2 linked regions of the Homo sapiens genome follow. The protein of the gene in region 2 interacts with the protein of the main gene of each other region in a biochemical or structural test. Each region holds a gene or a part of one and is shown on either strand. Other genes may lie near its edges.

Region 1 (15,251 bases), on a different chromosome or scaffold from region 2:
AACCACAAGAAGATACCACTTCACACCCAGTAGGATGCCTATAATCAAAAAGACAGCAACAAGTATCGGTGAAGATGTAGAGGAACTGGAACCCTCATATATTCCTGATTGGAATGTAATATGTGCAGCAGCTTTGGATAACAGTCTGGCAGTTCCGCAAAATGTTAAACATAGTGTTACCACGTGACTGAGCAATTCCACACTTAGATATATACCCAAGAGACCTGAAAATGTGTCCACACAGAAACTTGTACACAAATGTTCATAGCTGCATTATTCACATTAGCCAAAAAGTGGAAACAATTCAAATACCCATCAACACGATGAATGGATAAACAAAATGTGGTATCTATACAATAGAATATTATTCAGCCATAAAAAGGCCAAAAGTACTACGGATCAATACTATAACATGGATGAAACTTGAAATCATCATGTTAGGTGGAGTCAGTCACAAAACACCACATATTGTATGATTCCATTTATATAAAATGTCCAGAATACTTAAATCTATGGAAACAGAAGGTAGATTTGTGGTTGCCTGGGGCTTATGGGAAGGCGGGGAGTGACTGCTAATGGGTACAGAAAGTGAAGAAAATGTCCTAAAATTGATTATGGTTATTGTTGCATAACTTCATCAATGTAATAAAAAACTAGTGAATCATAGACTTTAAATGAATAAATCTTATGGTAGGTACTTATATCTCAATAAAGCTATTATTAGTTTTTTTAAACCTATAAGCTACAACACTGAATAAACAAATGATTAAAATTTTTATATTTATCAAGACTGCAACATAAGATCTTCCCAGGCTAAAGAGGATATACACATAGACAAGAAATAATAAGAAAAATATTCTCTAGTTCTCTCTTTAAAAAAAAAAAAAAAAGGCAGTGGAAGGGGCACACTCTCCTTCAACCAATCTTCCTCTAGCTCCTACCATCTACTTTCAAAATGTTAAAAAAAATGGAAAGACACTAAACCCACCCTTCACCCTATAATCTAGCTTCTTCCCATACCCCAACCCAAACTGTTTTTTCTAGTCACCAAAGCACTCCTATGTGCCAAATGGAATAGGTACTTTCTCAACCTCACCTTACCGGTCCTCCCAGCATTATTTGACTCTGGTAATAACTCCTTTCTTGAAACTCTCCCTGGCTTTTCTGACATCTCTGGTTCTCCTCCCTCCTCCTTGACCACACCTTCTCAGGAACAATCACTAGTATATCCTTCTTTTGGCTGTTATTTTAAGACTGATGTTCTTCAACCTAAAGCTGGTCACTCTATAAGTTTGTTGGAATAAGCTCATTCACTCCCATGCTGTCGACTATCTCCTACATGCTTATATTATGATGCCTACATCTTTAACTCCGTCCTGTCAGAAATCTTGAGCTCTACATTTCTACTGGATGTCTCAGAGGCACCGCAGTTTTAACATGTTGAAAATTAAATTTATCCTCTTCTCCCCCTGAAACTTCCTCCTACAATGTTGTTTGGTCTCCTCTACTTGTTTCTCCTCCCTCACTCCTTACTCTACCAAATGGTATTCTCTAGCTTGGGTGACAGATACCAAGCTAGATATTTTGCGAGTCATAACACTATACTCTTTTCTTCTTTACTACCTACATCTAATGAATCATTGAGACTCCTTTCTTAATTCTTATCAGATGTGTTGTATACACTCTATTTCCCCATCTCAGTTCACTTCAGGCCCTCACATCTCACTTCTTATATTTCAACAGCTTCCAAAATGCCACCCTTCATACTGCTATCAGATTCAACTTTGTAAAACACAAATGACTGTTTACCTTTCTTAAAAGACTCAGTAGTGCTCCAGAAACCCAGACTAATGATTCTCACCTTTTCTACCAGAACCTATCTAAGTAAGTGAAGGTTCAGAGTACAACTCAAGGAGCAGGCTGGAGAAGGTGAGATGGGGGAATGACGCTGGAGTGGACCAGCATGTCTATTTTCTTAACACCTCCCTACTTTCTCCATGTCTCTAGGAGTTACAATGCAGACTGTCCAGAATTGCTATTATCGGTCTGTAGAATAAAATCTAAGTATAGCATAGATGTAAGATCCTTCACAAAAAGACCTCTACCTAACTTTCCCAGCATTACCTTTATCATTTACCATGTATTAGCTCACTGGTTCTCAAAGTATGGTCCAGGACCACCTCCCCAACCCCCAGCCATCAGAGGGAGTCTGTGTGGAGTTAAAACCTAGGTCTGTCAAACATGAATGTGCACCACCCTACTTTATACATTTATCTCTCATTTTGTAAATATTAAAAGTAGAGATAATTGAGATCAAATTCTGGATCAGCCACAAATTAGCTATTTGCTAATTTATTAGCAAAATTAGCATGTTTTCAACATGCAAATAACCATCTAGGCAACATAGTTCTGCACAGTCTGGGTACCTTAGCTGTCTCCTCTTTAACAGTATGGGGCACAACCAAGGCCAGGAATAGACACTCATAGAATAGTAATGACAGGTGGAAAATTTCTATCCTCAATAGTAATCAAGAAATTCAAGTTAAAACAAGATATCAGTTTTCAACCATCAAATAAAGATCAAGAAAATTATAATATGAACACTCATACATTATGACAGTTGTATAAACTGACAAAACTTTTTCAAGTTTATGAACATGTATTAAATGTTTATATACGTCTACCTAGTACTCCTGGGAAGCTATCTTATGCAACAGTGAAAAATGTCAGTTTCAGCAAAAATGTTAATCACAGAATTACTATATGTAACAGCAGAAAGTAGAATGACCTAAATACTCAAACATAAAGAAACAAAATTAAGATATAAGATAGTTACCAAGTAGTAGGCCGGCTACGGTGGCTCACACCTGTAACCCCAGCACTTTGAGGCTGAGGCAGGTGGATTGCTTGAGCCCAGGAGTTTGAGACCAGCCTGGGCAACATGGGGAAACCCTGTCTCTACAAAAAATACAAAAATCAGCAGGGCTTGGTGGGGTGGGCCCATAGCCCCAGCTACTCTGGAGGCTGAAGTGGGAGGATCACCTGAGCCCAGGGAGACCGACGCTGCCGTGAGCCAGGATCGCAACCATGCACTCCAGCCTGGGTGACAGAGTGAGACCCTGTCTCAAAAACAGAACAAAACAACAAAACAAAACAAAACCAAAAAATATTAACAGAGGTAGCCTTTAAATGACAGGACTGTAGGACAGCTGGATAGAGCGAAAAGAGCATCATCACCAGTCAGGCAAGTGGAGTGTTCATTTGAACTGTGGTCTAAGTGTAAGGCATTATTATTATTCTATTAATTTCCAAATTTGGAATAAACATTATTTTATGATGGAACAGTTATATCAGCTACATTATCTCTAAGGCTCAGTCATAAAATGTTAAGAATTTAAAATGCATTTTTAATCGACATCAGAATTTAAAAATAATAGAATCTATAAGCTAATCTTTTTTTTCTCTTTCCATGCCAGGAGAACATAGTTCCTCTCCAGCCTTCCAGTCAGGGGAAAAAGCAGCACCAACTACCGGCTGTCTTAATTACAGCTATTGCTTATCAAGTCAGGAAATTAAAAAAAAAAAAAGCCCTATAAAAGAATAGCCTTAGTCATCAAATCTCTAATGTAGAATCACCTAGCTATACCTAGGTATCATGGAAGAAAAAGGAAACTCATTTACTCTTGGAGAAATGAACTCTCGGTGGCTCATGCCTGTAATCCTAGCACTTTGGGAGGCTGAGGCGGGCAGATCACAAAGTCAGTCAGATGAAAGTTCAAGACCAGTCTGGCCAATATGGTGAAATCCCATCTCTACTAAAAATACAAAAATTAGCCAGGCGTGGTGGCATGCGCCTGTAATCTCAGCTACTCAGGAGGCTGAGGCAGGAGAATCGCTTGAACCTGGGAGGTGGAGGATGCAGTGAGCCGAGATTGAGCCACTGCACTCCAACCTGGGCGACACAGCGAGGTGTTACATCTCAAAAAAAAAAGAAAGAAAGAAAGAAAGAAAGAAATGAACTCTCCAATAGGAATCCCTGACTCATCCCCAAAGCATGAACCCTAAGGCCACTTCTCCAGTACAGGAGTTCAGAGGCTGGGCAACCTGTCCTGATGGCCCGCATCACCAAACAATGCTCCTTCCTGACGGTATATGCCTAGGGATAACAAGGTGACTAGCATGCAAACAAGAAATGACCAGGGACCACACCATCTCTTCTTCCATAACCAAAGTAAGACGGTAAAAAACTAGTTTTAGGCCGGGCATGGTGGCTCACGCCTGTAATCCCAGCACTTTGGGAGGCCAAAGCAGATGGATCACTTGAGATGAGGAGTTCGAGAGCAGCCTGCAAATATGGCGAAACCCCATCTCTACTAAAAATACAAAATTAGCAGGGCGTGGTAGCTTGCGCCTGTAGTCCCGGCTACTTCGGACAAAAATTAGCCGGGCGTGGTGGCACGTGCCTATAATCTCAGCTACTCAGGAGGCTGAGGCAGGAGCATCGCTTGAATCTGGGAGGCAGAGGTTGCAGTGAGCTGAGATTGCGCCGCTGCACTCCAGCCGGGGCGACAGAGCGTAGAGCGAGACTCCGTCTCAAAAAAAAAACCAACCAACCAACCAACCAAACAACAAAACCCAAAAAAACTAGTTTTAAACATCTTAAATATTCAAAGTATTTTCTTCTACTTTTGCTAGAAAGTAGTAAAAAAGGGACTCCATCCAATTGCTGTAAATGACACCATTCAAAAGATACCAAGACAATAAAAACTCTCAATAGTAAAAAGGGAAAATGCCGTTTTCCTTAACCCTTTCAGATCAAAAAGTAATTTTTCAAAAATACATAGGCTAAATATCAAGAGCAAATGTTTAAATATAAGCAATATTTTTATTTTTAATAAGGAATAAGTTAGATTATTTAACTTATATTTTCAATCTTCAAAAGATACTGAGAAAACTTTACTTCCGTCCTCTATTATTGGTCTGGGGAGGCGGGAATCACAAAGCTCAACGATGCTAGTATAATACTGTGTATGGTCAAGGGCCTATTTTATAAGCTGTTAAAAATTTAACGCTAAAGCTTTACTAGACCAGTCTCTTTAAAACGTGAAAAAGTATTCACTACTAAGTCATATCACCTCCACCATAAAAACTACTGTACTTTTTAAACAAAAAATAAAAACTAGCCAATGTTTGCTGCCCATTCATTTTACAGGCATTAACTGTGTATCCTTCTCATAATCAGATTTCAGAATTAAGTGATTATTCTTCGAGGTGTACCTTACCCAAGATAAAAATTTTCCCCAGCTTATTTCCCATTCCCAACCCCCGCCAAGACTAAGGAGCAACCACTTCCCAAAGTCCCACTTCCTTTTTCATTCCCCAGACCTACAGGGTTTCCAACGCCCCAGTCTTGCGCAATATCCGTAGGAGCAGCAGCCGCAACCACCGCCTCCTAAGCCGGGAAACAACCCTAGAGGGAACATTGTCCAGCAGAAAAATAAAAAGGGCGGGGGTTGGGGGGGTGGGTAACGTAGGAAGTCGACTTCTGGTCTCACGCCTTCGGATCTGACCCCCTCACAGTGTGCTAAAGCAATAGTGTATCTAGAGCAATTTCATGAACAAGACTTTTAACCTTCACCTCCTCTCAAGACTGCCTGCACAAGCAGAGGGCGGAAAGTAGGGGGTGGCGGAGGCGGGGGGGCGCTGGGAAGGTTATCTCCCAGTTCAGGGCTTCGGCCCGTAGCGTCGCCTCCGCCCCACCAGGACTATTGTTCCCAAGTTCCCCACCCCCACCCCGGATAGGAAGTGATAGTCACATCCCCTCCGCCTTCGGCAATATCCCCTGGGGAGTCCGAAGTCGGCTGGCTTCCTTCAGGATAATTCCCCCACCCACACTTATCCCCTGAACCTATAGTCACACGGACCCCAAGACCACCTCAAACCTGGGCCTCAGGAGAGGAGAAGCGGGACGCGGGTAAATGGAAATTAGGTAAACCCATGAGATTCCTTATGGGCAATCCTTTCCCAAGCGTTGGAGATCATGACTGCGACCCCAGAAACGGCCTAAGTCCTACCCTGCCCGCTTTGAGACCAGCTAGAGCAAAGGGATCCCAGGAGTTAGTGCCAACCTCAATACCCCCGTTCCTCTGTCAGCCACGATCTGCACTCCTCCCGGTCACAGCCAGATACCTTGCCTCGACCCTCCTGGGAGGAGCGAACTGCGCGGGGAGGTGTGGAAACGCGAGCCCCCCCCCCCGGCCTGCACCTCACTTGCCTACGGCTCCCGGCCCGGTAAACAATAGGTGGTCGCGAGCCACGGTGCAGGCTGCGGGCTCGGCCGCGCGGCCGCTCCCTTCGCGTCCCGGGAACCCGCGCGGGGGTCGCGAACATGGGAGAAGAAAGGAGGCCACGGGGGGAGGCGCTCTCGCCTCCCGCTGGCCTCCGAGACCACCCGGCTCACCCGGCTGGTGCGCGCCCCCTCCGCCCCTCTCCTCACAGAGGTACACAAAGCACTGGCGGCCCGGCCGGGAGAGGCGGCGATGGGCTCCGGCGCCGGCAAGAAAACGCGACAGCGAGGGGAGAGACTCACCATGAAGTCCCGGGCGAAGTTGTCCTCCCCATTGTGGTCAGGACTCTTCATGGCCTGGACCCTCTGGATGAATTTCCTCAGGATCTCCACTTGCTCCATCCTCCCGCGTCCCCCCGGCTGCGGTCGCTGGCCCCCCCGCCGCCCGCCCGCCCGGCACAGAGCCCGCTCCGTCTTCCCCAGCTCGTTCCCCCAGCACGTCCCTCCCTCCCGACCCCGCCAAGCCCCGCGGCTCCCTCCTCCTCCCCACCGCCCTAGGCGGCGGCTGCGGCGGCACCGGCTGGGCTCCCGACACCACAACTTCCAGGAGCAGCCGCCGCTCTCCCACAGTACCAGGCGAGCCGCTGCGCTAGCGCCAACCCCAACCCCCAGCTTGCTCCATCCTCCTTCCCCGCCCTCCTCCTCCGTCGGAGACGCCGCCGCCGCCGCCGCCGCCGCCGCCGCCTCAGGAACACAGCTAGCTCTCCGCTCGCCCTGCCCCCCCTTCCCGGTTCCTCCTCCCCCCCACCCCCCGCCAGCAGCCGCAGCCGCAGCCGCAGCCGCCTCTCCCCACGGGCGCGTCCCCGCCGCCACCCAGATGCGCGGCCTCGCGCTGCGGCTCCGCCCCAAGCGCTGCGCCCGCAGATGCATCCCCGCCCGCCTCCCGGCCACGCCCCCAAGCCCGCCCCGCCGGCCCCAGCCCCGCTTGGAGTGGCTGGAAGGCACTTCAGCGGGCGGCCTGGAGACCTGACTCCATTTCCGGGGCGTGGCCCCGCCCGGGGTGCTCAGAGGTCGGAGTATCGCTGGGAGGAGAGTTGGTTCATTTGGAGGAGGGAATGCGACTCTGAGCGGGCCAAGCCCTAGTGGGTCAGAGTAGGATTCTGATGGAATTTGCGGTCTCACCGCCTACTAGGGAGGAAAAGCAGTTTTCAGGAGTCCCGCACCGCCGCCAGCCGTGGGCTGGGACTACAAGTCACGGTCTGTGGAGTCCAGGAGTGGGGGCGGGCGGGAGGCAGGCTGGGAGCTGTAGTAGTGTCACCGCCACGTTCGCAGCAGGTAGATGCTCATCTTGCTAACGGATTGGTGAGAGTGGACAGCAATTAGGCTTTGGCACCTTGGAGCGTGGCTCCAGCTAAGGGAAGCGAAACGCTTCCTGGGTGAGAGGACTTTTATTCTTTGCTCATCCTCTTAAACCTGGCGAGTGAGCGCCTGAGGTTCGGAGTGCCTTCTTCACAGACGACGCGAATGTGGGGTCTTCGTGTTTGCCGAACTGAAGGGAATTTGCCTTCCTGCCTTTAGGTTCGCAGCAGTTCATAACTGAATAAGAGACTTTCCTCCATAGAATGGACTTTATAAATCTATTAATTTTTTTTTTTTTTTTTTTTTAGAGCTAAGGTCTTGCTCTATCTCCCATGCCAAAGTGCAGTGCTATGATCACGGCTCGCTGCAGCCTTGAACTCCTGGGCTCAAGGCATCCTCCTGCCTCACTACGTCACCAAGCCCAGCTAATACATTTTAAAAATTTATTATTTATTTATTTATTTATTTTTGGTAGAGAAGGGGGTCTCACCAGGTTGCCCAGGCTGATCTCGAATTCCTGTGCACTAGGGATCCTCAGCTTCCGAAAGTGTTGGGATTTTAGGCGTGAGCCACCGCGCCTAGCCTATAAATCTTTATTCATCTTTGTAAACTTCTATCAGAGAATATATTCTGGTCTAACTCATCATTTTACAAATAAAGCGACTTCCTGACATCCCCCAGCGTATTCTTAGCAGAGCCGTAACTAGAAGTTATTTTACTTTCACAACAGTGGCCTCTCACAATGTGACAGAACTGAAGGATTTGATCCATGAACTGACTTTCGTCATTTATACCCACAAACCTTTTTTTACAGAGCAGATTGGTCAGCGAATTTGGTTATAATAGGAAATATCAGTGGTAGAATACTTTCTCAGATGAAAGTTAGGAGCACTATGGAATTTAGTGAAAAACTCATTGAAGAAAATAGGTGTAGGCCGGGCGCGGTGGCTCACGCCTGTAATCCCAGCACTTTGGGAGGCCGAGATGGGAGGATCACCTGAACCCGGGAGGCGGAGGTTGCAGTGAGCTGTGATCACACCATTGCACCCCAACCTGGGCGACGGGAGTGAGGCCCTGTCTCAAAAAAAAAAAAAAGAAAAGAAAATAGGTGTAACAGGATATAGTTTATTTACTTCTTCAAAAAAAGGAAAATATTTCTGTTAAAATAATCCAACTAATACATCCACTCCAGAAATATGCACTTCAGACCAGGTGCAGTGGCTCACACCTGTAATCCTAGCACTTCGGGAGGCCGAGTTGGGTGGATCACTTGAGGTCAGGAGTTCGAGACCAACCTGGCCGATATGGTGAAACCCTGTCTCTGCTAAAAATACAAAGCCGGGTGTGGTGGTGCACGCCTGTAGTCCCAGGTACTCCAGAGGCTGAGGCAGAAGAATCGCCTGAACCTGAGAGGCGGAGATTGCAGTGAGCCGAGGTCGTGCCACCACACTCCAGCCTGGGTGAAAGAGCGAGAGTCTGTCTCAAAAAATAAAAATAAAAAGGCCAGGCGCGATGGTTCACACCTGTAATCCCAACCCTTTGGGAGGCCGAGGCGGGCGGATCACCTGAGGTCAGGAGTTCAAGACCAGCCTGGCCAATATGGTGAAACCAACCCCGTCTTTACTAAAAATACAAAAAATTAGCCGGGCGTGGTGACGCATGCCTGTAATCCCAGCTAGTCAGGAGGCTGAGGCAGGAGAATTGCTTGAACCCAGGAGGCGGAGGTTGCATTGAGCGAGATCACGCCATTGCACTCCAGCCTGGGCAACAAGAGCGAAACTCTGTCTCTAAAAAAAAAAAAGAGCCTCCCTGCCTGATTCTCCTGCCTCCGCCTGCGGAGTGCCTGCAATTGCAGGCGCGCGCCGCCACGCCTGACTGGTTTTCGTATTTTTTTGGTGGAAACGGGGTTTCGCTGTGTTGGCCGGGCTGGTCTCCAGCTCCTAACCGCGAGTGATCCGCCAGCCTCGGCCTCCCGAGGTGCCGGGATTGCAGACGGAGTCTGGTTCACTCAGTGCTCAATGGTGCCCAGGCTGGAGTGCAGTGGCGTGATCTCGGCTCGCTACAACCTCCACCTTCCAGCCGCCTGCCTTGGCCTCCCAAAGTGCCGAGATTGCAGCCTCTGCCCGGCCGCCACCCCGTCTGGGAAGTGAGGAGCGTCTCTGCCTGGCCGCCATCACATCTAGGAAGTGAGGAGCCTCTCTGCCCGGCCGCCATCCCATCTGGGAAGTGAGGAGCGCCTCTTCCGGCCGCCATCACATCTAGGAAGTGAGGAGCGTCTCTGCCCGGCCGCCCATCGTCTGGGATGTGGGGAGCGCCTCTGCCCCGCCGCCCCGTCTGGGATGTGAGGAGCGCCCCTGCCCGGCTGCCACCCCGTCTGGGAGGTGAGGAGCGTCTCTGCCCGGCTGCCCCGTCTGAGAAGTGAGGAGACCCTCCGCCCGGCAGCCACCCCGTCTGGGAAGTGAGGAGCGTCTCCGCCTGGCAGCCACCCTGTCCCGGAGGGAGGTGGGGGGGGTCAGCCCCCCGCCAGGCCAGCCGCCCCGTCCGGGAGGGAGGTGGGGGGGTCAGCCGCCGGCCAGGCCAGTCGCCCCGTCCGGAGGGAGGTGGGGGGGTCAGACCCGCCCGGCCAGTCGCCCCGTCCGGGAGGGAGGTGGGGGGGTCAGCCCCCCGCCCGCCAGCCGCCCCGTCCAGGAGGTGAGGGGCGCCTCTGCCCGGCCGCCCCTACTGGGAAGTGAGGAGTCCCTCTGCCCGGCCAGCCGCCCCGTCCGGGAGGGAGGTGGGGGGGTCAGCCCCCCGCCCGGCCAGCCGCCCAGTCCGGGAGGGAGGTGGGGGGGGTCAGCCCCCCGCCCGGCCAGCCGCCCAGTCCGGGAGGGAGGTGGGGGGGTCAGCCCCCTGCCCGGCCAGCCGCCCCGTCCGGGAGGGAGGTGGGGGGGTCAGCCCCCCGCCCGGCCAGCCGTCCCGTCCGGGAGGTGAGGGGCGCCTCTGCCCGGCCGCCCCTACTGGGAGGTGGGGAGCCCCTCTGCCTGGCCAGCCGCCCCGTCCGGGTGGGAGGTGGGGGGGTCGGCCCCCCGCCCGGCCAGCCGTCCCTTCCGGGAGGTGAGGGGCGCCTCTGCCCGGCCGCCCCTACTGGGAAGTGAGGAGCCCCTCTGCCCGGCCACCACCCCGTCTGGGAGGTGTGCCCAGCAGCTCATTGAGAACGGCCAGGATGACAATGGCGGCTTTGTGGAATAGAAAGGGGGGAAAGGTGGGGAAAAGATTGAGAAGTCGGATGGTTGCCGTGTCTGTGTAGAAGTAGACATGGGAGACTTTTCATTTTGTTCTGTACTAAGAAAAATTCTTCTGCCTTGGGATCCTGTTGATCTGTGACCTTACCCCCAACCCTGTGCTCTCTGAAACATGTGCTGTGTCCACTCAGAGTTAAATGGATGAAGGGCGGTGCAAGATGTGCTTTGTTAAACAGATGCTTGAAGGCAGCATGCTCATTAAGAGTCATCACCACTCCCTAATCTCAAGTACCCAGGGACACAAACGCTGCGGAAGGCCGCAGGGTCCTCTGCCTAGGAAAACCAAAGACCTTTGTTCACTTGTTTATCTGCTGACCTTCCCTCCACTATTGTCCTATGACCCTGCCAAATCCCCCTCTGTGAGAAACACCCAAGAATGATCAATAAAAAACAAAACAAAACAAAACAAAAACAAAAAAACAAAAAAAAGAAAAAAGAAAAAAATGCACTTCAAGTTATGCCCTTCCAAATTTTTTCCTATGCATTTATATATGTGTGTGCATGCAAAGAGATACAGTTTTGCTCTGTATTTCAAAAATTCACTTAGAGGAATAGTTTAATTTCTAAGGTAAACTTTATTTGAAAAAAGGGCCCGCAGTATTTTACTTTAACCAGATACTGAGACTGAGTTTCACGGGATGTGAGGAAATGCCAGAATCAGGGCTTGATCATGCTTATTGTAGATGGCCCTTTCCCCTCAGAAATGGGAGAGAAATTCGACTGTAGGAAGAGAAATGGAAGGATGATCAGAAGTGCCTCTGCTTTTGATGGTTCAAAAGAATGTACCAACCAGACAATGATCGGTAAAGAAGATATGCTGAACAAGTTGTGTAACAGTCTAGTACGGTTTGGTATAGTGTTGGGTAAGAAGTGTTACTTGTTTAAGGTATTGAGTCCCATTTTGGCTGGTGTTTTTAGTCTTTTTTAAAATGTTTCGTCTTATTGGCAAGCTTCTCTCTCTTTCTTGCAACACTTGAGAGTTTCTTGAGTTCTCAGCGGCTACCTTTGGCATCTACTGCTAGGTTTGGGAAAATTTATGTAAACTATCTCCAAGGATTTCAATTCTTTTTTTTCTTTTTTTTTCTTTTTTGAGATGGAGTCTTCCTTAGTCGCACAGGCTGGAGTGCAGTGGCGCGATCTCGGCTCACTGCAACCTGAGCCTCCTGGTTCAAGTGATTCTCCTGCCTCAGCCTCCCAGTAGCTGGGCTTACAGGTGCCTGCCACCACGCCCGGCTAATTTTTTTGAATTTTTAGTAGAGATGGGGTTTCACAACGTTGGCCAGGCTAGTCTCGAACCCCTGACCTCAAATGATTAACCCACCTCGGCCTCCCAAAGTGCTGGGATTACAGGCGTGAACCACCAAGCCCCGCCAGGATTTCAGTTCTTTGGAAAGGCTTAGCAGTGCTTTCCTTGGTACCTTGCTAGCTTTTTCTTCTTCTTCTTCTTCTTCTTCTTTTTTTTTTTTTTTTTGAGACAAAGTCTCACTCTGTCGCCCAGGCTGGAGTGCAGTGGCGTGATCTCGGCTCACTGCAAGCTCCACCTCCCGGGTTCCATGCCATTCTCCTGCCTCAGCCTCCCGAGTAGCTTGGACTACAGGCGCCCGCCCCCATGCCTGACTAATTTTTTTGTATTTTTAGTAGAGACAGGGTTTCACCATGTTAGCCAGGATGGTCTCGATCTCCTGACCTCGTGATCCACCCACCTCGGCCTCTCAAAGTGGCTTTTTCTTCTTTTCAATACATTTAGGTCTTGTTTCAATCTACATATGGCTTTTTAACATATCAACATATGAGGGTTTATGCTGTGTGTGTCAGATACAAAAATGTTATAGAGATGGCTCCTACTCCTAAGGAATGAATATCTTAGTTCAGGAGACAGGAAAAACAATAAACTCTTAGTTACTTTAAGTTAATAAATGTGAAAGAGTGATACAGATAATAAGTGATTTAACAGTTCTGAGGAGAGAGAATTGTGGACCGGGCTGTCAGCATGGGGTGGTCACAGAGGTAGACCTTAAAGGGTAAGTTAAATTAGGTTTGAACAGGAAGTAGAACGCCCAGGCAAGAGAAGTGATAAGCATGAAGACAGCAAAGCAGAAGTTTGAAGTAGAACATTTGTATAGATGTGAAAGCTCCAAAGTAGACTAGGCTCTGGAGAATGTTGATACTGTAGGCATGGGAGCCACAAGAGGTTTCTGAGGATAGAAGCAAAATTATGGAAATGAGGAAAATAGTAATCTGGTACTTTTCTGATAAATTGTGAATGAGAGAGAAGGGAATGAGAGATATTAGGAGCCAATACATGAAACAACAAAAATAAAAGTAAGAAGTGGCCGGGCACGGTGGCTCACGCATGTAATCCCAGCACTTTGGGAGGCCAAGGCGGGCAGATCACGAGGTCAGGAGATCGAGACCATCCTGGCTAACACGGTGAAACCCCGTCTCTACTTAAAAAAAAAAAATACGAATAATTAGCCGGGCGTGGTGGCTGGAGCCTGTAGTCCCAGCTACTCCGGAGGCTGAGGCAGGAGAATGGCGTGAACCCAGGAGGCAGAGCTTGCAGTGAGCTGAGATCACGCCACTGCACTCCAGCCTGAGTGACAGAGCAAGACTCCGTCTCAAAAAAAATAAAATAAAAAGTAAGAAATGCAGGCTGGGTGCCCTGGCTCACGCCTGTAATCCCAACACTTTGGGAGGCCAAGGCGGGCAGATCACTTGAGGTCAGGAGTTCGAGACCAGCCTGGCCAACACGATGAAACCCTGTCTCTACTAAAAATACAAAAATTACCCAGGCGTGGTGATGTGTGCCTGTAATCCCAGCTAGTCGGGAGGCTGAGGCAGGAGGATTGCTTAAGCCCCGGAGTTCCAAGCTGGAGTGAGCCATGATTGTACCGCTGCACTCTAGCTTGGGCAACAGAGCAAGACCCTGTCTCAGAAAAAAAAGCTGGGTGGAAGGAGGCAGATCTTGTTTGGGAGATTTTTAAAAATGGCACATGGTAGGTCCAGCTTTAGAAAGCTCACCTACCTATACTATAGTCTCAGGGAAATTTACTGCTCTGCCTATCCTCTGTCACAGCCACGTGTTTGGGCAGTTGAGAAGTTAATCAGCCCATACAGACTGGCCAGCAACCTATGTCCTGGTATAAGAAGATGGTCTGGGCCAATCAGTTCTCACTCTTAGGAATCTGAATTTGGAAACCTAGAAAGAGTAAGTCATTATGCAGCAAGGGCAGAAGCTGAATGTATGCCATGGGGTAGAATTAGCGATTTGAAGCCTTGAGAGAGAGTAGAAAGTATAAAGAATCTGATTAGGAAGAGAACATTAGGATGCACTCAGTGGCTCACGCCTGTAAGCCCAGCATTTCGGGAGGCTGAGGCGAGCACATCACTTGAGGCCAGGAGTTCGAGACCAGCCTGGCCAACATGGCGAAACCCCGTATCTATAAAGTAAAATAAAATAAACTTTTAAAGGAAAGAAAAGAACATTAAGCAGACATGCAGCAATATGTGGGTATGTCACAACATAACCCATATGGCCATGGGGGAGATGGGGAGAATCTCCAGAGTAACCTGACTTCCGATAAACTTTTAGGAGAGGTTCAGTTGACATTTATTCCATAAGTAAATTTTGCTTTTCTTGAAACAGAATAGGGCAGTAATAAAGAGCGTGGGCTCTGAAGTCAGAGAAATGAAGGTTCAAAAACCTGTTCCATTTCTTGTTCAGGGTAAGTCACTTAAGCTGTCTAAGCATCAGTTTCCTCTTTTAGGAAAGCCACCTGGTGCTGGCTTAATGAGATAATGTTTCAGCAGTGGTGTACTATATACTTACTCATAGAAAACACAAAATAGGCCAGGCGCAACGGCTCACACCTGCAATCCCAGCACTGTGGGAGGCTGAGACAGGAGAATTGCTTGAGCCCAGGAGTTTGAGAACAGCCTAGGCAACACAGTGAGACCCAGTCTCTACAAAAAAAATTTTTAAATTACCCAGGCGTGGTGGTGCATACCTGTAGTCCCAGCTACTTGGGAGGCTGAGGTGGGAGGATTGCTTGAACCTCGGAGGTTGAGGTTGAGGCTGCAGTGAACTCTGATGCCACTGAATTCCACCCTAGGCAACAAAGCAAGACTCTGTCTCAAAAAGAAAAGAAAAACAAAACACAAAATAATAACTGGTTAAAGACCGTTAATGATTTCTGGGTCTTGTGCTTTTTTACCTCCTTCCTCATCTCTTTAGGCCCTTTTCCTACTCACTAGCTACATCACTCTGGGTAAATACAGGAGGAATGAGAAGAAAGCTAAATTTCATTTTTAAAAAAATCTCTCTT
Region 2 (14,819 bases):
CCTGGCTCTCTCCCGCCAATATCCTCAGCAATGTCGTCATTCTCTCTGAGTTCAGAGGAAGAGAGACCATGAAAAAAATTTTAAAAATCTCTCTGACAGGAAAACCACAGCATTTTTGGTTTGTGACAACTGGGGGTGAGGCAGGGACGTGAGGATTCAAACTTGCACCCCTTGGGGGCTGTACCTGCCCACTGGTAACCACAGAGGGGCTACAGGAAGCTGGCCTTGCCTTGGTTTTCCTTTGTTTCCCAAACCCCTGCCCTGTGCAGCTTCTGGGGGCATGCAGCACCCCCAGCACCTTACCTGACGCAGGATGAGCAATAGGGGAGTGGAGGTGACAGCTTTCTGAGGGAGGTGACATTTCAGGCAGGCCTTGAGGGATGGGTGGGACTGGGCAGGGGAGCAACAGGGCAACAGCAGGAGCAAAGGCCCAGAGGCTGGAAAGGAGAGTCAGGCAAAGTCTCTGCAGGGCTGGACATGTGATGTCAGCAATGTTGGTAAGCCCCCTGCAAATACTAACACTATCTTTTTTTTTAAGATGGAGTCTCGCTCTGCAGCCCAGGCTGGAGTGCAGTGGTGCAATCTGGGCTCACTGCAACCTCCGTCTCCCAGGTTCAAGTGATTCTCCTGCTTCAGCCTCCTGAGTAGCTGGGACTGCAGGCTCGCGTCACCATGCCCAACTAATTTTTATATTGTTGATAGAGACGGGGTTTCACCATGTTGGCCAGGCTGGTCTCGAACTCCTGACCTCAGGTCAGCCTCCCAAAGTGATGGGATTATAGGCGTGAGGCACGGCGCCTGGCCCTAATGCTGTCTTTAAAATGCACTGAAAGCGCTGGTGGGGATCCCTGGAGTTTGGGGACTGGGTCTTACTTGTCCATCCTCCATTGCCACTGCCCCACGGATGTTTGCTGAGTTAACATGTGAAGGAGGTACATGTCAAAAATCACTTAAGATGTAACCTCCTGTTAATTTCAGTGGCCCGAGCCTCCAGGCCTGAGGGTGGCTCCCGGCTGGTTTGAGGTCAGGGGACTGCAGAAATGCAGTACCTTCAGGCAGCAGTTCTGCCCTCAGGGCTCACTAGGCTATTTATAGGGTCACTTAACCACCTGGCTTTTGTCCTCGTTCTGCACCCTGTTCCTAGCCTTCCCATCCCCCAGTCCCCTGCCCGTTCTGCAAGGGGCAGGGAATGAGCATCCCATAGACCTGGGGGGCAGCTGTGGGCCTCAGGGAGGCCAGGGGCTTCCCCTACTCAGGGATGGGCCCTGGAGGGTGGGCCACCAGCCCCGATGTTGAAGAGCCGGGTCACCTTTCCTGAGGGCCAACACACACACCCCCCCCCCCCACAGGAGTCTAAGATGAGGAAACAGGTCCACGGCCACTGCTCACACTTCCCCACCAAAAGCCCTTCAGGTTGGCATGGGGAGGGGTAATTGGGTCTAAGCCAAGACTCTGACAGTAAGGCAAGGCAAGGTGTCTGGGAGGGCTTCCTGGAGGAGGTGGCGCATAAATGGGCCCTAATGCAAAGGACTAGGAAGGAGAAGGAAGTCACCCTCACTGTGCTGGACTCTGGCTAAGGAATGGCAAAGCCCTTTATTTTATTTTAAATTAGTGAATCCTCCTGACCCATCCAGGGCATGGCACATAGTAGGTCCTCAATTAAATGGTGACTAAATGGATGGAGGATGGATGCTTGGCCTACACCGAAAGGAACAGCTGCATGGCCTCATCAACAGTACTTCATGCCACATGGGTCAAGAGCAACACTATGGAGCCCCACTGTGTGCAGTGAACCCCTGTGGCTTGGCACTCTCTGCTTGTCCTTGTGACTGCCCAGAACACCTCTCCAAGTGACCATCCCCTTCCATAGGTACAGACCCTGGACTCAGAGACAGGGAGGACCATCCAGGGCCACACAAAGGATAAGTCAGGGCAGACCCTGCCCCACCTGGCCTTGAATAACCATGGCGCAATCAGGGCCGCCCAGAGCCTCCACCTGGCCCCTTCCTAGTTCTACAAATGGAGCAAGATGTTGCGTACCTCCTGCTTCCTGAGGCCCACCCTGCTCCCCACCCCCATTGTATTTTCTGTGGGTAGCTTCTCTTTCCCTGCTGTAAATCCCCTGTGACTCACAATCCCCTGAGCCTGCATCACACAGACCCACTCCAGCCTGGCTCCCATTGTGCCCTGCTGGGGCCACCCTCTCCACCTCTCCTGAGTCTCTGAGTTCTCCCCATGAGGTACCCTCTCTTTCTGGGAAAGTTCTCTTCCAGCTGGCCTGGAGGCTGGGAGGCCAGGAGACCAGGAGGGGCTCCCCTGGTCATGCTGCCAGGCCCCCACAGCTGCTCCTCCCCTGGCTGAGAGCTCTGGGCACTGCTTCCTGCAGAAAACACCTCCCTGCATACGTCCATTCACTCCTCACCATGTCCTGAGCCCTCCTCTGTGCCCAGCCTGCACCCGGCCCTCAGCCCTTCCCTTGGGAGGCCCTCAGACCATGTTCTTGTTGATTTGCACGGCAGCTCGCTGGAGTGGGAGGTGAGAAACAAACTTGGAGAGGCTAGGCGACTGGCCCACAGTCCCACAGCTCAGATTGGCCGAGCCGGGACCAGAGCTCCAAGGGCTCCTCAGAGCCCTCCGTCCTCCCAGGGCTGTGTGCAACTTTCTGGCCTCACACACGGCTCATGCCACATCTAAGCCTTCCTGTGATCTCTGGCTCCTGGTTGGAAGCAGGAGCCGCCAGGGTGCCTGGTGTCTTTGGGGGACCTTCAGAGTATGGCACATTCAGTTCCTCTCTCGGGGGAGAAGGCAGGAAGGGAAGGGGTTCCACAGCAGCTGCAGGGTCAGGCTCAGGGCCCCTCGGCAGGAGGACTCTGCAGAGCCCTTTCAAGAAGTTGGAGGCCGGTGGTCTGTCTGCCCCTTGGCCTGGCTCTGTCCTCACCCAGGGGGACAGTCTGGGCCTTCCCAGAGCAGCCCCTCCACTCCACTGTTAGGGTGGCTGTGTCCTGAACTCACCTTCATCTCCTCACCTGGCCTCCCACCCCAGCAGTCTGCGTGCAGAGACCTGTGGGGCTGGAGACTCCCGCTTCATCAGAGCCACTTCCCTGACGGCCTGCCCTCTAACCAGGCCTCAGCTAAGCCCATGGGCCCACTTCTTCCTTTGAGGAGGGCTGCGTTACTTTCCCATCACTGATGAGGAAACGGAGCCACAGAGTGTGTCAGCAGCCAGCCCATGGTCAGACAGCTGGGGGGTGAGGAGCTGACACCGGAACCCAGGTGTGTCCCCTCCTGGACCCCTGTCTCTGGCTACATCTCCATCCTTGAAGCCCATGCTGAGCCAGTGCTGCAGGGGACTTGAGCCACCAGTGGAGACGCCTGTCACCTGCCCCTCAGGACTTCAGTGGAGGCCACCCAGGCTGGTGCAGACTGCGCTGCAAATGACTGAGGATGGATGGCCTCCTGTCTCCCCTGCCCAGACCCTTTCCAGAACTCAGACCCTCGGGCTTCCTCCCTCACAGAACCTGGCCTCACCCTGAATGCCCAATAACCAGGCACCAAGGAGCAATCCAGACCTACCCTGGTTCTGCCCAGCCTCCCCCATGCCAGGAAGACCTAAACCTCATCTAAAGGCCCAGAAACTGCCAGCAGAGGAGAGGAGTGAGCCCCAGGGCCCGGGAGATCTTACTTGATCTCCGTCTGGCCACCTGCCTTCCGTGCGATCTGCACCAGCTCCTTCCCGTACCGCTCCTCCGCCTGGGCCCTGCAAAAAAAAGGGCATTTGAAAGATCATCAGTGACTTGCCACCTCTGGGGGAGGCCCAGGTTTGAGGGAACACAGAAGAGTTTTTTAAAGCAGGGCGTGTTCTGACAGAGTTTGGCTGGGATGGGGGCCTCGTCCACTGTCCCAGGAGCCGAGCGGAAGCCACCTGCTTCCTGCCTGCGCTCCCCATGGCCTGCCCAGCAGCTCACCTCTGCCTCAGTAGCTCCTCCATGTCTTTGCACATCTTCCTGCCATCCAGAAGCCGCTGCAGCAGCACCTCGTAGCCCGTGTGGGCTGTGAAGTCCCTGCACTGTGACACAGGACAGAAGGACACATGAGGGCCACGACCAGGCGACACTGAGCACAGCCCTGTGGGGACCCTCCCACCATCTCTGGGAACAGCCTCCCTCCTGCCTCCATCTCCCCTGCTCAGGGCAAGCTCTTGGGACTCCAGACCTGGCTTTACACAGGCACACAGGAGGTCCCCTCACATCTGCAGAGGTGACAGGTACATAAGTGAGCCCCACCCAGCTGACAGGGCCGGGGGTGCCGGGCCTGGCATCTGGAGAGCTCACAGGACAGGACACACATCAGCATGAGATAGCAGATGGGAAGAGCCACCCTTAAGTCCCCCTGATGACAGCCAGGCCTGAAATTCACTCACTCACAGTGCCACCCTTCCAATATCCCTATCTCAGCTAAGTGGGGAAACCGAGGTGTAGGAGGGTGACATGTGATCGTATCCAGAGCGGCCCAGCTGGAAAGTGGCTGGCCTGGCCTTGAACCCCAGGCTGTCTGGCTGGGGTCCCTGCCCTTCACCTCAGCACTGTGCAGTCTCCATGACCATCACAGCAATTGCGGTTTCTTGGGCACCAGCCATGTGCCAGATGCTGCGCTGGGCTCTCTGTGGGCTCAGGAAACCCCCCCTCACGGAGATCCAGGGAGGTGGGCATGGAGGGTGACTTCAGTCCAGGTCAGAGCATGCGCAAGCACACCCTACATTCACCTCTGGACTGGGGTGGGGTGGGGAGCCTCAGAGAACTCTCCAGGGACAGCTACCCTCTGCTGCCTGGCACTTGCCCTGCTTGCCCTGGCTGTTGTTCCTGGCCAACCCAATTCTCCTTTCTCACTGTGCAGTGGATTCCAGGTGTGTGTCTGAGCTGCTGGTGTGGGAAGCTGGGTGTGAGAAGTTGGGGGAGGGAGGTAGTCTTTAAGGACTATGAAGGAACAGAGGTCTCCCAGGACATTCCCAGGCTTGGGGAGTGGGTCCCGGGGCCAGGATCCCCGCCACAACCCCCTGAGCTCTCCCAGGCACTGCACGCAGGCTTACTCCAGGGGAGCTTGAGAGGTGCTGGGGAGACAGGATTTTTGTCACCAACTGCACCAAGGCAGGCCTGACATTCCGCACCTAGTCTGTCTTCCTTTCTATCCCTGAGGACCCCTAAAGCCTCAGAGACTGGAGGAAGAAGTCCCAGCTCCCCTGACCACACACATTACAGTCTCCAAGGTCACGCACACTCCAGGGTCGCACACACATGACTCAGGTAAAGCCTGGTACTCCTTCCCCTGACCCATGTCTCCCCTCAAATGCCACCTTAGGGGTGTGAGGGGAACAGGGATGGAGTCGAAATCCAGGAGAGCTCTCTGCAGGAAGAGGCATTTGAGTCAGGTGCTGGAAGGAGAAGGTATTCTCCAAGGTCTAAGAAGAATCTGAAGTAGGGGTAGCAATGGCATAAATTGCCCCAACAGTGCCCCCCCTCCCCACAAACTCCAGCCCACCCTCAGCAGGTGGACTCTCCTGGCCTGTAGGACACTTAGGACCCCAAGCTCCTACCCCCTCCATAAGCATCCCTAGAAATTCCTGAGGAGGGCCTGGTCCAGGCTCAGCTGTCCACAGAGCAACAAGCAGCGTGTCTAGCCTGGAAGGCCAGAAGCTGTCCCCCCAGCCTCAGAGGCAGGCGCCCACCCCCATGTCCAGGTTGACATCACTGGGTTAGCTTGGACCAGGCTTCCATTTCTGTGGTTTTGGTGGGCAGCTGCTTGCAGCCAGCAGCCCTCCCCTTCCCACCCCTCAGCCTCTGCCCTCACTCCAGACCCTCAGGTCAGAGCTCCTGGCGGCTGGGAAGAAAAACAAATCTGGGGCCTCAGCCTCCTGCACCTGCCCGGAGGGACACCAGCATTCATGTCAGAATGCCACAGACCCCCCCGCCCTGAGAACTGGGAACCACCTTGTGCGGCTTCCCTCACTCCTCAGGAAACTGAGGCCAGAGAAGGAAATGGCTTGCTTGACGCTGCAGAGTCAGGACAAGAATCCGGACTCTCAGGGGACCTGTCATTCCTTCCTGATACCTCTGGAGAGGCCACCTGGAGCCCAGCCCCACACCCAGCCCTGACGCCAAGGGAACCCTTCTCCTGTCCTTATGGAGGCCCCCAGAGTGGAAAGAGAAGCAAACCGAACCTACGCTGGCCATTCGGGAGGAGTCAGAAAGCAGCGAGAGGCCCTGCAGGCTGTGACCGCCGTGCTCAAGTCCCCAGAGGCTGCAGGCTCCAGGATCCCGCCCAGTCCCCCGCTCAGAGCTTTGGGCTGCTGGCAGGGGCTGTGGCCGAGTGAGCTACTGTCACAAGGACTGGGATGTTCCGAGGAAGTGCCTGACTCTCCAGGGGCTGCTCACGATGCCTCCCAGCCCTGCACCCCTTCCCCCAGCCCGCGCCCTCCTCCTTCACCCCCACCCCTGCCACTTCCTCGAGGGCATGGGTCTGACTCCGTGCTCTGAGCTGGGACAGTCAGGCTCAGGATGTGTTTAGGAAATGAATGAACCAATCATCCTGTAACTTAATCAGTCATGTGGGTCTGCCACCCAAGACCCAGCATCAGCATCACCCCCAGGGGACCTACCCTAGTTGTCCCCCACTCCTCTTACCTCCATCTCCCCTCATCCTGTCCAACCTCTGTCATCCGAATGCTGCCTGTGGCCCTGCCCTTTGTGAAATCTCTATTTATCAAGTCTACCTGGCACACACTGCACCAAGGGTATCATAGCGTTATCTTCCTGACCACAACACAGATCTCGGGAGGCGAAGATGGGGACAGGAGGCCCAAACAGGGAAAGAGACTGCCCAAAGCCACTCAATGGGTAAAGGGCAGAGTTTGGGATCTGAATGCAGGTCAACCTGTCCCCAAAGCCATATACCTACATCAGCCATTTAGTAGACAGCCCAGGAACCATTTTCTATTTTGGAACATCCAAACATGATTTGAAAAAATAACTCTTGAAAATGATTACTCAAATTATCTCCACCTCAAATCAAAGCTGTATTTTGGGCTATAATTCAGTTACTGTGGATTCACAGAGGCTAGCCTGGGGCCCAGGCTGGGTCAGAGGAGTGCGGCTCTGGGTAACCCATGAACAGCCAGTGGTCACGGCCCAGCCATGTGGCACCCAGGATAACCCGTCCTGGATTAGGGGTGCCAGGTGGGGAGCGGGCACAGTCTCTTCCTCTGGGAGGCTCACTTGAGCCAGATGTGGGACCCAGCCCTCGCCGTCCATGGTGTGTGGCCATCGGCCTCAGGCGGCATCCCAGAACTCCAGGAGGAGGCTCTTGGGAGGAAACATATTCCTGCCTCTGCCTTGAGGCAGTGTGGCCAAGGCCTGGGTGCCCTGTTCTGTCAGGGACAGCCTACTGGCTTCATTCTCTGGTGGGTGTTGGTGTGAGCCACGGCCCAGGCCTGTGAGCCGGCCAGGGCCCTCCACACCCCCACGGCTTGAGTGGAGAAGCACCCTCTGTAACTACCGCCACTTCCCCCTTTTCACGCCCATAACTCTTGGTGGCTGCAGGGGCGAGACCACAGACACCAGGGCCTGAAGCAAGCCACTTTACTTCTCAGGACCTGGTTTCCTCATTGGGAAAGTGGGGGCAGGAGGCTAACCCCCTTTCGGGCCCTGACAGCCCGCCCCTCTAGGGCACAGTCCTGTTAGTGTAGGCCACAGGTCAGAGAGGGTACTCGGGCCTGTTTGAGAGGCTGGGAAGGGTCTGACTGACTAGATGTGGGTTCACACCTCCCGTGACCCTGGCCCTTCTCAGCCTGTTTCCTTCCCTGTGAAAATGGGCCTAATAGTTCTCACCGCCTAGAGGTGACCCGAGAAGCAAGTGAAATCGTGCGCATAGGTGAGAACAGTGGACTCAAGATCAGGGCTCACCACAAGGCAGATACTGGGCTAGGGGTGATGACTACCATTTTATGGATGAGGAAAAGGTAACCCAGAGAGGTTACCCAATCTGCCCAGGGACCTGCCGGGTGCAGCTGGGATATAACCCAGATATCCCAAGCCACGATCTTGGCTGTTAACTTCCCATTACTTTGCCTCTCTGCAAAGCCCCACACTCAGGGCCTGTCACCCAGGGGCAGTTCAGCAAGCAGCAGCTCCCCGAGCCCTCCCCGCCTGCCTGCCACCTCCCCGACCAGAAACACCTTCCCTCAGCTGGGGCCAGGCTGGAAGAAATGAGTCACCTCATCACCTCCCCTCTCGCCCTACACACCTTCCTCCACCAGAGGTTCCATTTAAAGGGGAGCAGAGCCTTTTTCAAATGCTCCCTTGCCTGGCACTCCAGAATACAGCATCTATCAGAGGACAGCTAAGCCTCCAACCTTGGAGGGGGACACCTGGGTTTTGGTCCGAGTTCCTACCTGCTATGTCCAAGAACTGGCACCAAAATCTTCCCTGGGAACCAAGTGGGGGCCGTGGAAGGTAGCCAGGAAGAGCTGCCTGGTAATTCTGTCCATGAGAATAGCCTGACAGGGAGAGAGGAGCCCCTAGGAGAAGCTGAGTGGAGCAGACTATTGGGTGCAACGGGAGAGGTTGGAAGTGGAAGGCTGTAGGGAACGGAGTGGTCAGGGACTCCAGGGGGGCAGGGTCACCAAAAAACCTGCCCAGGTGCCAGGGAGAGAAAGGGCTGACCTGTGTGCATTCACTGTCACCAGTTACAACAGTACCAGGGCAATGAGATGTTTCTCCCCTTTACAGTCACGGCCTGTGCCCCACCACCCCCCCATGGAGACCCCAGAGGCAGCTGGCAGTGCAGTGTGGGTACCCCATGGCAAGGGAGGAAACTGACCCTGTTCTCTTTTCCCCATCAGAGGCTTCCAGTGAAAGTCGGGGAACTGGGGAGCTTTAAATTGAATGAGAGTGAAATTGTGATACTAGCTTGGACTGGATTGGGTTACACCTGAAGATGACTGGGAAAGCTCCAGCATGGGCCACAGGTGGGGAAGCAAGACGTAGCAGCAGCTTTGGAAGGTAGCTGCACGGAGCTGCATGGTGCTGGGGTGCTCTCCTCCCTCACACCAGCAGTGACATCTGCAGCCAGTGTGGCTGACACTGTGGGTTTGCTAGCACCTAGTTTCCTGTTGCTTGTCTTCTGTGGACTGAAAACCTGAGGTAGGAAGGGCTGAGCTCCATGGAGGCAGAGGGGGGTCTTTCAGGTTCCCCACTGGATCCCGGCACCTGGTGCCTACACACAGCTCTGCTCACAGACATGCTGAGTGATGGGCTGGAGAAGCGCCTCAGTGAGGCCTTCAAGAGGACAAGGCCTTATGACGGCTGCTTCCTGAGGTGCCCCATGGAGGGGACCAGATCATTTGCTTGCAGATTCAATGACCCATTACCCAGCACCTTTAAAGAAGCCAGTCACACTGGTCCCCTCTACTTCTTACAACAGTCCTCTGAGACAGGAATTATCATCCCCATTGTATAGATACGGAAACAGAGGCACAGGGATGCTAAGTCAATGGGTAGCAACCAGGCTCCTTCCACCGCCCTACAGTCAGTACCCCACAGTGGGACTCCTCTCCACCATTACTGGTTGGCAAAGTGAGGCAGGCAAAGGACCAAACACTCAGGTACAACTTGATGGATGGATGGATGGATGAATGGATGGATGGAAGGATGGATGGATGGGTGGGTGGATGGATGGGTGGATGGGTAGATGGGTGGGTGGATGGATGGGTGGATGGGTAGATGGGTGGGTGGATGGATGGGTGGATGGGTAGATGGGTGGGTGGGTGGATGGATGGATGGGTGGATAGGTGGGTGGGTGGATGGGTGGACTGGTGGACAGGTGGACAAATGGAGGGATGGGTGAGTGGGTGGATGCATGGATGGGTAGATGGGTGGGTGGATGGGTGGATGAGTGGATGGGTAGGTAGATGGATGAGTGGGTGGATGGATGGATGGACAGATGGGTGGACGGATGGATGGATGGACAGGTGGATGGGTGAATGGGTGGGTGGGTGGGTGGGTGGATGGATGGATGGATGGATGGATGGATGGATGGATGGATGGATGGCCAGAGCCCTCAGTAAACAAGGCGGTTGCTTACCCAGAGTATTTGGGAGGAGGTGATAGGGAGGGAAGGGAGAGTTCCAAGCCAAAGCTGTGAGGGAATGGCCTAGGAAAAGTCTCACCTGGAGATCTCTGTGGGGCCATCAGAAGCAGAGGGAGCACTAGTGGCTGGCATTTCCCAGCCCAAGCCAGGACTCATGGGGGCAGAGACAGGGAGGCCAACTCCAGGACAATGCAAGGAAAGGCTTCCCAGGAGCCTGAATGGCTGTAGGTATGGAAAGAGGGTGGGGGGCTTTGACAGGTGAGGAGCGCCCATCACTACAGTCTGTAAGCAGGTCTGGTTCCACAGAGAGGACTCAAGCCTCAGATGGCCTGTTAAACTAGGGACTTGGTGTCTAGGGGTCCCCTGACTCAAGTACTGCTGCGATCCATGTATAAGCAAATAAATATGGGATGAAGATGACTTACAGCTGTCTGAGATGGCCCAGGGTAAGTGTTGAAGACAGAGGGCCAAGAAGGCAAAGACAGACTTTTAGTTTTTAGAGAACAAATGTGCATTAATGTCAGATGAGCGACTCTTTGTTCACCTGGGCTGACAGGACCTTGAGATTAGAAATGAGTTTCCAGAGTGCCACAGTTCTCCTCCGAGTCCCAGTCTGATGGCCTCTGCCGGGCCTTACAGGGCCCCTCACCTGAGCAGCCCAGCTGGCCGAGTCCCAGAGATGCCTGGGCTGGGCTCCACTGTGCTGGGAGGCCCACAGGCCCGTGGCTGACAGGGACCCCATCAGAGCCCTGTGAGCTTCCAGGGACTCCCAGGGGTCCCACTGAAGGGACAACACAGGCACTGGACAAGGACACACTGTGCATGAGTGTGGTACCTGCCCTCAGCAATACTGACCACGAGGCAGCTACTGTCTGTCATGAAGATGAGGAAGGTGAAGACAAGAGAGGTGACTCTCTCTAATGTTGTGGGGCGTCTGGCTTTTGACCAAGGTCTGTCTGGCTTGAAAGCTTTGTTCTTTTAAATAGGCCTTCTCAATGATGAGGCAGGAAAGCACCCCACTGCCTGAGTTCCCCGCCTGCTTCCCCTCCTTCACTCTCATGGGGCCAGCCCAATCCCCACTTCTTTCTCCTGTGTCATGAAACCAAAACATGCAGAAAAGAGAGAGAGGGCTGGACGTGGTGGCTCACAACTGAAATCCCAGCACTTTGGGAGGCTGAGAGGGGTGGATCACTTGAGCTCAGGAGTTTGAGACCAGCCTGGCCAACATGGTGAAACCCTGTCTCTACTAAAAATACAAAATTAGCTGGGCGTAGTGGCGGGCACATGTAATCCCCGCTACTCGGAGGGTGAGGCAGGAGAATCACTTTAACCTGGGAGGCAGAGGCTGCAGTGAGCCGAGATTGAGCCATTGCACTCCAGCCTGGGTGACAGAGTAAGACCCTGTCTCAAAAGAAAAAGAAATAGAAAAGAGAAGAAAAGTGAGAGAGGAGGCAAGGAGCAAACACAAGGCGGCCAGAGGTAGATGGAGACACGCCCCTCAGACTCAGCTGCCTGGAAGTCCAGTGCTAGTGCTGTTCCTGTGCAACCTGCTTCAAGGCAGCAGAGACAGGTGCAGGGAGATGGAGCAGGTGTCTGTAAGGTGGCCTGAGGCCAGACTGAGGAGAGCCAAGTCACACACAGCAAAGGGCAGGACCTTCCCAGGAGGTCATAGGAACCAGGACCAGGTTCCAGGTTCAGGGGAAGGGATTGAGTGTGCGGTGCCTGGTGGGGCTCTCACGCATGATCCCCTCCAGTCCTCAGGGAACCCCGTCAAGTTAGTACTGTGCTGTTACTGTTCCATCTTACAGGCAGACAAGGAAGTGAGGATAACAGTGACTTGTCCAGGTTACACAGCTCTGTACCGCCCCTGCCAAGCTGATTTGGCAGTTGGAGGCTCACTAGGATCCAGCAGTGGGCGAGGAAGGAGGCCGACAGTGAGGGCAAGTGAGGAAGGGAGGCCGTGGGCCCTTGGGGGTGACTGATGCAGGGGAGGATGGAGCTGAGCCACCCCAGACCCCAAGCCCTGGAGGAGGCACTGACCCTGTAGCCAGCCAGGAGGGGTCCAGGCGTCTTCACAGGAAGAGCACGGCTCCTTGCCGAATGGACTCCCGCCTGTGAGTGACCAGCCAGGGGCACCAGTGGTCCAGGCACTGTCATTGCACATCCCCGTCCCCAGGCATTGCCCTCCCACACCACCTACGCCTGCCAGGGATGTCCCAGGGGAGGACAGGCCCACAGCGAGTCCAGGCAGTGGGGCGTGACAGGGCTCAGGCACTGGGTTCTGGTTCTGGCCAGTTCCACACAGTCTGCATGAGTCACAAACCTCCTGAGCCCAGATTCCTCCTCTGTGAGATCGGGATGAGAGCATCACCCACTTCCAGGGGCTCTGAGGACTGAATGGACAACACCTGCAGGAGCCTCATGCAGGGCATTTGACGCTCACCGGGCTCCTGGAAGGGCAGCCGAGGGGATTCATGCATGTTAACTGAGAGGAGCCCAGGGAAGGGGCGTTTACAAGGAGAACTGGGTTTGATCCTAGCTGGGACACTTCTCTAGACTAGTGGCTCCCACTCTCTGGCCTCAATTTTTTCATCTGTAAATTGGGGAGAATACGTGGACTCCTAAGCCCTTATAGGGCTGATATGAGGTGCCTGCTTTGCGGCTGTGATTTGCTGTAGGTGTGAGGGCTGGCAGGCTCCCCTGGGCTTGGGACTTGCTCAAGAGACAGAGATGGGCCCCTAGAGCTTCAGAGGAGCTCCACTCCTATGCCCGTGCCCTTCCTTGAAGGCAGGGACCCCTGCAGCCTCTGGAGGCCCTTTGGCTCTCTCTGCCATCCTCAGCAGGTTCAGGGCCTCGGAGCTGAGCCTGAGGCCTTCCGTGCCTGGGGGGCTAGTTGGACTCCACACCTGCAGGGGATGGCACGTGGGGCTCCTTATCCTTGCTTGGCCATTAACCTGCATGTCTCCACTCTCAATCCTCTAACCACCAAAGTTAGTTTACTACTACAATATTTACAAACAAGGAACCAAGGCTCAGAGAGTTGAGGGGCTCCCCAGGACCACCCATGAGTGTAGTAGGATCGAAGCGGGCCACTGGGCTCCAAGGTCAGAGTGAGAGACAAAGATGGCGCCTGCCAAGTAAAGGCTTCTATGTTGGAGTCTGGGAAATCGCCCTGCTCTGCCCAACACAGCCAGTGTACATGTTACACACAGCCGCATGGTGGAGAAACACGACTCTACTTAGAGTCAGATGCTCCCCCTACCCCAGGCCTGGGGGCTGTGTGAGGAGCCTAGTGCTCTCTGGGACCACTCACTATTTAACGTTTTACTCTCAGCCTACACAGAGGTAGGACTCAGATCAAGAATGCTGGGCGCAGTGGCTCACGCCTGTAATCCCAGCACTTTGGAAAGCCGAGGCGGGTGGATTACCTGAGGTCAGGAGTGCGAGACAAGCCTGGTCAACATGATGAAACCCCATCTCTACTAAAAATACAAAAATTAGCCGGGTGTGGTGGCGGGCACCTGTAATCCCAGCTACTCGGGAGGCTGAGGCAGGATAATTGCTTGAGCCCAGGAGACGGAGGTTGCAGTGAGCCGACACGGTGCCACTGCACTCCAGCCTGGTCAACAGAGTGGGACTCTGTCTCAAAAAACAAACAAAACAAAAAGACTGCCAGACCCTGAGTGCAAGCTCCTTCCCTTGAGGACTGGGAGTTATCTGAGGACGGGGATGAAATTTCTGCAGCTTCAGAGCGGCTCCTGCTCTGACCCTAGACCCAGGCTCAGCTGCTGGTCTTCCCTTGGTCCTGGCACCAGCCACACCTGTTTCTTTGGTTTCAGGGTCAGTGAGAATCCTCACAGATATCCCCAAACACCCCACCCACACCCTGTGCTTCCCTGTGCTGTGCAGACCTCACACCTGGCTGCGTTTAGTATTCACTGCAGCTCCAGGGACACTGATCCAGACTTCTGTGCTGATCTCCCGCCCTCCACCCCCAGCTCTGCTTGCCTGAACCATCCTCAGCTGTTCTGGGTCTTCCTACCACCTGTAGTCTGATGTCCTGATGCCTAGGAGAGTGGGCTCAGAGCTGGTCCAGGTCAATGGGCAATTGTTCAGGAGGTGACCAAGAAGGGAATCCCTTCTGCTTCAGTGACTGCAGTCCTCAAAGTGTTCTATTGCCAGTCGGGCGCGGTGGCTCACACTTGTAATCCCAGCACTTTGGGAGGCCTAGACGGGCAGATCACGAGGTCAGGAGATCGAGACCATCCTGGCTAACCAGTGAAACCCCGTCTCTACTAAAAATACAAAAAAATTAGCTGGGCATGGTGGTGGGTGCCTGTAGTCCCAGCTACTCGGGAGGCTGAGGCAGGAGAATGGCGTGAACCCAGGAGGCGGAGCTTGCAGTGAGCTGAGATTGTGCCACTGCACTCCAGCTTGGGCAGCAGAGCGAGAGTCCATCTCAAAAAAAAAAAAAAAGTGTTCTGTTGCCCAGGCTGGAGTGCAGTGGCATGATTACAGCTCACTGCAACCTCGACCTCCTGGGCTCAAGTGATCCTCCCACCTCAGCCCCCCAGGTAGCTGGGACCACAGGTGTGCACCACCACGCCCCAGCTAATTTTTGTATTTTTTGTAGAGATTGGGTTTTGCCATGCTTCCTAGGCTAGTCTTGAACTCCTGGG

What was found.
Region 1: the proteins of PSTPIP1 (region 2) and PTPN12 form a complex in vitro, tested with the Homo sapiens proteins (one study listed by BioGRID).

The regions. Positions count from the first base shown.
Region 1 is NC_000007.14:77,528,984-77,544,234, reverse strand, and holds the start of PTPN12 (tyrosine-protein phosphatase non-receptor type 12), read right to left. Parts: upstream 6,941-15,251; 5' UTR 6,689-6,940; coding exon 6,590-6,688; intron 6,193-6,589; exon of another isoform or gene 6,129-6,192; intron 1-6,128. UniProt on the Homo sapiens protein: Dephosphorylates a range of proteins, and thereby regulates cellular signaling cascades. Dephosphorylates cellular tyrosine kinases, such as ERBB2 and PTK2B/PYK2, and thereby regulates signaling via ERBB2 and PTK2B/PYK2.
Region 2 is NC_000015.10:77,007,395-77,022,213, reverse strand, and holds part of PSTPIP1 (proline-serine-threonine phosphatase-interacting protein 1), read right to left. Parts: intron 14,368-14,819; exon of another isoform or gene 14,158-14,367; coding exon of another isoform or gene 14,149-14,157; intron 4,067-14,148; coding exon 3,966-4,066; intron 3,758-3,965; coding exon 3,683-3,757; intron 1-3,682. UniProt on the Homo sapiens protein: Involved in regulation of the actin cytoskeleton. May regulate WAS actin-bundling activity. Bridges the interaction between ABL1 and PTPN18 leading to ABL1 dephosphorylation.